Homo sapiens: one gene and its partner. The protein of the gene in region 2 purifies or fractionates together with the protein of the main gene of each other region. This does not show direct contact. Each region holds a gene or a part of one and is shown on either strand. Other genes may lie near its edges. The genes, in order: XDH and MTRFR.

Region 1 (4,554 bases), on a different chromosome or scaffold from region 2:
GCCCAGGCTGGAGTGCAGTGGCATGATTTCAGCTCACTGCAACCTCCGCCTCCTAGGTTCAAGTGATTCTCCTGCCTCAGTCTCCAGAGTAGCTGGGATTACAGGTGGCCCACTGCTCCCAGATAATTTCTGTATTTTTAGTAGAGATGAGGTTTTACCATGTTGGCCAGGCTGGTCATGAATTCCTGACCTCAGGTGATCCACCCACCTTGGCCTCCGAAAGTGCTGGGATTATAGGTGTGAGCCTCCATGCCCAGCCAACAACCAGTTTTATAGTGACCAACCATCCCAGTTTGCCCTGGACTGAAGGATTTACTAGGATCTCTGAGGCATTTGTCAGGGATTCAAGGCTAAAACTAGGATAGTCCAGGGCAAACTGGGATATTTGGTCAACCAACAAGTAAAGTTTCATCTCCTGGTTAAATTAAGGCTGTGGTGAGAGGGGGCATTGTGTTGATTGTGTGGTTGTCCTGTCAGTCTTCAGTTTCTCTAAGCTGTTGCTATATCAAGTACATCTGCCTAATACTCCTTTCTTCCCCCTCAGGTAGCCTGCTAGGGTTGTAGGGGAGGTGTCTTACTTAAGGAAGGCTGGCTGAGCCACTGTATGGGTCATTACAGGACAGAAGAAGACCAGAGTGAATGCTGGTCTCTGTGTGTTTTTTTTTTTTTTTTTTTTTTTTTTTTTGCGTGTGTGTGTGTGTTGAACTAAAGAACTGGTAGGGGCAGTTGGGAGGGTGCTGGACTGCAGAGAGCCCTTTAGTGCTGCTCCAGTGGACGTGCACATCTGTGTTTCCACTGAGAGTTAATGGATATTGGATGGGGAAAGGTTTTCAGCTATGTGTTACTGTAGCCTATGACTATGTGGTATGAGCATTTTAATTTATTTGGTGTTTTGAAATACTTTTATGAGTTACTCTGACAACTTGTCAAGGATATTTTCCTGAGAGAAACAAATAAAAGACAAATCTCAAAAATAGTTTGCTATTAGGATTTTATTTGTTGAGATGTTGAAGATGTCTTTTCAACAGTGATACATGTTTTGGTTCTTTGCAAATTTACAAGGCACTCCCAAAATGTCATTTGTCCCTCATTCTTCTATTCTTGATATCATTCTATGATCCTGTACAGGATGAAAGCAACTGAGTTCTGAAGGTAGTAAGTAACATGCTGAGGTCAAATGCCAGGATTTGAGTCAGGTTCATGGGGCTCCATGTCCTGTGACCTCTCTGCTCCACCAGGCTGTGAAAGAATGACTCTTGCATTCATGCAGTCAGTCTGTGTTGCTGTAAACCTGAATGGTAAAATGACAAATGTAGACACAGAGGGTGTGAATCAGCTCTATTAGCAGTGACTCTGAGAATAGTCCTTTCCCTCCTCTGTCTTCCCCTTCTCTGTCTTGCAGCAAGTGGGAGGACGAAGCAGGTTTCATAAGAGCAGCGCCCAAGACCCACAGTCGCCTAGTGCCAAGTCAACAACCTTACTGATATCTGGATGTAGTTTCCTGTGCTCTTTGACACAGGTGTGGAGATTGTAATTTGCTGTGTGTGATTGTTTGCACTTCCTTGATTATGTAAACCAGTGGCTTTTGCCAAGAACTCTTCATGCCCTGAAGCTCTGAGCTGGTTCCCTCCCATTGGTGGACCTTATTTCATTTTATTGGGAGGCGTAACTTTCAGGTCACAGAGCAGTGATAACTACCTGCCAGTGTCTCTTAGGAGTGAGGTACCTGGAGTTCGGGGACCCCAACCTGTGACAATGACAGCAGACAAATTGGTTTTCTTTGTGAATGGCAGAAAGGTAAGTAGGAGCTGACCTTTGGTTTTGTGTCCCTTCTCCCTGGGAGGGGAAATGTGTCCTCTGGCAGAGCCATATCTTGTTCTCTGTCTTTCCTGTCCCCTCTTACTTGTTCTGTCTTTCTCTCTCTCGCTTTAAAGGTGTCGCTGCATTTTGGTAACATTAGGGAAGAAGACCTTCTCGGGGCTAGAGCACAGACAAGATACTCAGAGGCCAAAGAATGAGGGAGAGAGAGGCAAGCAGAGAGGCATCTGTGAGCTAGCTGCCAACTCTCTGCAGTAGTGGAGATTGGCACAGAATGAGAAAGGGGAGTTGAGTTCTAGGTGAGATTTGAGGTCATCACCACACTTCTATTTCTGTCTTTAATCAAATATATCCTAAAATTTACGTTGCTCTCTTTACAGAGAGAAGGAACAGGAATGTGTTTTCCTGCTTTTATCAGGATATAAGATGTACGCAGCCTTTGATTCTAATATATTATATATATAGGTTTAACAGCCAGTCCTGATTCACTGTGAGGTGACATATACTGACACCTTGTGGCAAACCACAATTTTTTTTTCATAAAGGGCATCTCCTGCATTCCCCCCACTCCCCACCCACACACAGTGAGTTCTACATGTAAGCTGCAAATCTGTTACCTACTTGAATTTACCTTATTGGTACACAGGGACTTAGGGAAGGTGACATGGGTACCAGCCCTTGGACAAGAGTGAGAATCTTTGCAAATTTTAATGTGGTGCAGAGAGAGAGGGGGCAAGCATATTACATGGTCACTAGCCTCCATTTGCCCTCCTACAACACTGCTGAGATGCTCATACCTGTTCAACTTCCCACTTAGGAATGAAAAGGATAGTAAAAGAGTCCCATAGTTGCACATTGTAACTTACTGTGTGGACTGTGCGTGATGAATGTGCCCAAAGTGTCCCCCAAAGAAGGGCAATTTTATTTGTCTTTCTATATTGGCATTTTTGCATTGAGTTGAGAAACTTTTGATGTAATTTTGAGTGACTTTTGGTATAATTTTCAAGAACAATAATGTGCTTCACTGGACTCCTAGGTCTTAAATTTCCAGGATGTGTTTGGGTGACTGTAAAAGAAATTTCATGAACTGTTTCAACGTCAGTGCTCCAAAGATTGATGGACTCTCTTTGAGTGGTGCCTTTGGGAAGTGCTGGGGAATGGGGACAGCCATGTTCTTCTGGGTTCAGAGTTTCCTCTCTGAGCTGCATCCTTTTCAGGGTTGGCACCTGGTACCAACCCAAGAAGTAGGGCAAAGCTTTCAAGTGTAAGATTTTGCATCCAGCATTTCAAACAACTTCTTTCCTTCAGCAATTACATTGTAGAAATCTAGGAAACCATTGTGCAATTGGCTTTCTAGGAGAGCTACTTACACAAAGCCATCTCTGGAATTTTTATTAGTAATTTTTACATTGGGTAAACAGCTAGATTCAATGACGTCCAAGGTCATGTCTTACTCTGAGGTTTTATTATTTATTAAACCAAACCATTGGTTAACCTGTAAAAGTATAAGTTTCTGCTCTTCTTCAGGGATGGCTTGCTGTTATGCACTAAATCTAGAAAGAAGAATTTCAAGGTAAATCTGGCTTGGGGAAAATTATTTTCCCTTGCATTTTACTTTCACTTTAGGAGAGTAATTTTAAATTTTTCGATGGTACCATCACATCAAATCCTATTATTTCTAGAAGCTTCTACTACTGCCAGTTTCTGTGATGAATATCCATGTTTGTAATTTATAATGATGTAGCATCTTCAGAAACTGCAAGAAAGGTAGAGGGGCAATGCAGAAAGTAATTATGTGAAAGCAATGCTGTAAAAACAAGACCAAGCAAGGGAATTCCTGGGTAAACAATGGCAGCTGTGAGAAAGTTGTCCTCATTTTTATTCAGAAGATATTCTAGACCTTTTGTTACAGGAATTGTGCAAAGTAGTTACCAAAGAAGCTGTAAGAACTTAGTGACTCTTTTTTTTTATTATTATACTTTAAGTTCTAGGGTACATGTGGACAACGTGCAGGCTTGTTACATATGTACACATGTGCCATGTTGGTTTGCTGCACCCATTAACTCGTCATTTACATTAGGTATATCTCCTAATGCTATCCCTCCCCTCTCCCCCCACCCCACGACAGGCCCCGGTGTGTGATGTTCCCCTTCCTGTGTCCAAGTGTTCTCATTGTTCAATTCCTACCTATGAGTGAGAACATGCAGTGTTTGGTTTTTAAATGTGAGCCTACTCCTCTCCTTGTTTTGTACCACTGTCCAGGACTCTGGCTTCACTAAATGGGGTCCTGCAGAAGGTGTTCGATGCAAGAAGTCGAATACCTCTAGGGCCTTCTGTGGTGGTGATGAGCCTTGATGACTATTGTTTTCATTCACATCTTCTTTTGTTCTAGAGTCAGAGTCAAAGGGAAAGAGCTGTCCAGTATTTTATTTTTATTGTAATGACAGCCTTTTTGCAAGGCAGCATTCTAGCTTTTCTGAGTAGTCACTCTGTCTAGCTGAGACTGTGGCACCTGGAAGAATCTGGGAGGATCTGGCAGGTTGGGTGCAGCCAAAGGTGTCCAGGAGTGATCCCCACAAGAAGTGAGTGTCAGCTACAGAGATCGTCACGGTGACTTTCACTCACTCACTCACTCACTCACTCACTTACTCATCATTCACTTGCTCACTCCCCATATAGTCAACATTTATCAAGCTCCTTCTGAGGCCTCAGACAACAGGATATGCACTGGGGGAA
Region 2 (3,810 bases):
GCCCAAGCCAGAAAAATAATGCACTTCGGCTGATCCCATTCACACTTGGGAGAAATCTCTGGAGGCTGTGGAACCCTTGGGCGGGGCCTCTCCCCTCAGCGGCCTTCTGTGATCTACCTTTACAACGATGCCTGAGGGGATGTGCTTCAGCACCACGCAGTTGCTGGTTTTGTTGGTTGCCTGGCCCCCTGGACCGTGTCCTTTCACAAACTGCTCTTCGAGTTCATTCTCATCCAAGGAAAGCAGTGCAGGGTAGTCCTTCTTGCCTGCCATCTGGACCGGAGTGACAGCTATTCCTGGGGATAACAACGTCAGCTTCTCCCAAAGCCGGAGTCCCCATGGCGCCGGGCATATTCGGGTCAGTGGTGTAGGAAAATGAAATAAACCCACGGTGCTCATAAGGAACGTGGCTCTGCTGGCTGAGGACCTGGGTTAGATGAATAAGGAGAGCTTTCAGTAAGAGGCATCTGCCCTCAAGATTATGCTTCAGATTCAAAGACAGCTTTTTATAAAGCAATTCAAATGATGACCCATCTGTTACCGAGGGAATTTAGGAAATGAGTAGAGACACATTATTCAGCAAGACGCCCCTCTCCTCAGCCTTGCACTGTCTGCCATGTTACCAGGACATGCCCTGCCAGCTAATACATATTTTCTTGCAATAGACCAAAAATATCTTCCAAGCACCCGGGGGTGCTGTTTTCTCAGAAAGGAGAGGTTTTGAGTGTGAAATTCAGGCCGGGCATGGTGGCTCACACCTGTAATCCAAGCACTTTGGGAGGCCGAGGCAGGTGGATCACAAGGTCAGGAGTTCAAGACCAGCCTGGCCAAGATGATGAAACTATCTCTACTAAAAATACAAAAATTAGCCGGGCTTGGTGGTGGGTGCCTGTAATCCCAGCTACTCGGGAGGCTGAGGCAGAGCCACTGCACTCCAGCCTGGACAACAGAGCGAGACAGTGTCTCAAAAAAAAAAAAAAAAAAAAAAAAAAAAAAAAAAAAATTCAAAGGAACGGACTGTAATTTGATACAGGTAAATAGTGCATCAAGCAAAAATTAGGATCTGGGTCAAGTGCCAGTATTTAAATGTTTGAGAATCTCTGAAATCAAAATGTAAAGATGACAGTATGAGAGTCTATTTTATTTTTTGAGACGGAATCTCGCTCTGTCGCCCAGGCTGGAGTGCGATGGCGCGATCTTGGCTCACTGCAACCTCCGCCTCCCAGGTTCAAGTGATTCTCCTGCCTCAGCCTCCTGAGTAGCTGGGATTACAGGCGTGTGCCACCACACCCGGCTAATTTTTGTATTTTTAGTAGAGGCGGGGATTCACCATGTTGGCCAGGCTGGTCTCGAATTCCTGACCTCAGGTGATCTGCCCACCTCGGCCTCCCAAAGTGCTGGGATTACAAGTGTGAGCCACCCCCCACCCCCACCCAGGGCTGAGTAGTCTATTTTATAGCTGAGCTTAAACAGTCTGACATAGTAAACATCACTATCAATCAATGTCATGATTGTTGTTTTTTGTTTCCAGTTTCATGGATTTGAATGTGAACATCTGTTCCCTGGACGCACTGCCAACAACGTGGTCCAACTGGTACTCATCGTTGGAACTACCAAGTCAACTAATTTTTTTTTTTTTTTTGAGACAGAGTCCCACTCTGTCGCCCAGGCTGGACTGCAGTGGCGCGATCACAGCTCACTGCAGCCTTGACTTCCCCAGGGTCAGGCGATTCTGTCACCTCAGGCTCCCTAGTAGGTGAAGACTACAGGCAGACACCACCACATCTGAGTAATTACTTTTTGTAGAGATGGGGTTTCGCCATATTGCCCAGGCTGGTCTTGAACTCCCTAAGGTCAAGTAATCCACCTGCTTCAGCCTCCCAAAGTTCTGGGATTACAGGCGTGAGCCACTGCATCCAGCCAGTCAACTTTTAATAAGGTCCTTGTTAGGTACAGTAAGGGACATGAGATGAAAAAGAGCTGGACTGTCTTCTTGGAGCTTACAGGTTAGTTAGAGAAGATATTAAAAGACAGATGAGATGGGCCTAGACTCTCTGCCTACATCTTTCTCCAGTGCTGGATGCTCCCTGCCCTTGAACATCAGACTCCACGTTCTTCAGTTTTGGGACTCAGACTGGCTCTCCTTGCTCCTCAGCTCTAGACAGCCTATTTTGGGACCTTGTGATCATAATTTATTTGCATGGGAGCTCCTGGGATCATAGCAGACAGGAGGCAGGACTAGATTGTAGCTTCAGACAGAGCAGCATGCAGAGGCTTGCATTGTGAATTTTAGCTCTAGATCAACTGCAAGAACAAACCAGCAATCCTGAGAGGACCCACAGACCCTCTGAAGGAAGCGGATTGCTCCTGCAGGGCCCGGGAGACCCCCAAATACTGTGAGTGCCCCAACTGTGGAAGTGGGAAAGGGAGATCCTCCTCTCCCGAACACACACCCCCCCACTGGAGAGGCTGAAGGTCTGTTTGCAGGAGAAATTTCCAACTTTACCTGGAGCTAAGTCAGACTCAGCAGAGCGAACTACAGGGGTAGAGGAAGCAGCAGAAAGGCCGTGGGAGCTCGCTGGGTCCCCAGAAGGCCCATTCCTGCCTGGCACCACAGGGATCCATCGGGAGGGTGGCCAGAGGAGCAAGGGATAAAACTCCACAGGGAGAAGAATTCTCTAGTCGAACTTCGTAACAATTTAAACAGGGTGAGAAGCCTCCTGGCCAGAACTTGGGCAACTGCACGAATCCAGCATGCAGACTTCACAGGTGGGGGAAGAACTACAGCCCTTTTCTTTCGCTGCTGGGAGGGGCACAGCCTTGGGGCAAATTTTCAAGCCAGTCTCACCCTCTGCCTGGAAACAGACTCGGGGCAGTTGTGGGGGAACACGGTGGGAGTAAGACCGGCCCTTGGGTTTGTGTGGGAGCTGGGTGAGGCCTGTGACTGCCAGCTTTCCCCCACTTCCCTGACAACCTGCATGACTCAGCAGAGGCAGCCATAACTCTCCTAGGTACACGACTCCAGTGACCTGGGAATCTCACCCACATTCCCTACAGCAGCCGCAGCAAGACCCGCCCAAGGAGAGTCTGAGCTCAGACACGCCTAGCTCCACCCCCACCTGATGGTCCTTCCCTATGCACCCTGGCAGGAAGACAAAGGGCAAATAAATCTTGGGAGTTCTAGGGCCCCGCCCACTGCTGGTTCCTCCCCATATTACCACAGCTGATGCTTTCTGGAAAGGACCACCTCCTGGCAGGAGGCCAACCAGCAAAAAAAATAGACCATTAACCCACCAAAGCTCCATTGTACCCTCTGCCACCTCCACCGAACAGGCACTGGTAGCCATGGCTGAGAGACCCATAGATGGTTCACATCACAGGACTCTGCAGATAACCTCCAGTACCAGCCTGGAACTGGGAAGATTCGCTGGGTGGCTAGACCCAGAAGAGAGACAACAATCACTGCAAGTTTGGCTCATAGGAAGCCACATCCATAGGAAAAGGGGCAGAGTACTACATGAAGAGAACACCCCATGGGACAAAAGAATCTGAACAGCCTTCAGCCCTAGACCTTCCCTCTGACAGAGCCTACCCAAATGAACAAACCCTGGTAATATGACAAAACAAGACGCTTCAACACCCCCCAAAAAACATACTAGTTCACTGGCAATGGATCCAAACCAAGAAGAAATACCTGATTTACCTGAAAAAGAATTCAGGAGGTTAGTTATTAATCAGGGAAGGACCAGAGAAAGGTGAAGCCCAATGTAAGGAAATCCAAAAAATGATACAAGAAGTGAAGGGAGAAAT

Evidence for each region.
Region 1: the proteins of MTRFR (region 2) and XDH purify together in Homo sapiens (affinity purification with mass spectrometry; one large-scale study listed by BioGRID and IntAct). This does not show direct contact.

Annotation. Positions count from the first base shown.
Region 1 is NC_000002.12:31,411,868-31,416,421, reverse strand, and holds the start of XDH (xanthine dehydrogenase/oxidase), read left to right. Parts: upstream 1-1,679; 5' UTR 1,680-1,755; coding exon 1,756-1,797; intron 1,798-4,554. UniProt on the Homo sapiens protein: Key enzyme in purine degradation. Catalyzes the oxidation of hypoxanthine to xanthine. Catalyzes the oxidation of xanthine to uric acid. Contributes to the generation of reactive oxygen species. Has also low oxidase activity towards aldehydes (in vitro).
Region 2 is NC_000012.12:123,250,264-123,254,073, reverse strand, and holds part of MTRFR (mitochondrial translation release factor in rescue), read right to left. Parts: intron 428-3,810; 5' UTR 400-427; coding exon 118-399; intron 1-117. UniProt on the Homo sapiens protein: Part of a mitoribosome-associated quality control pathway that prevents aberrant translation by responding to interruptions during elongation.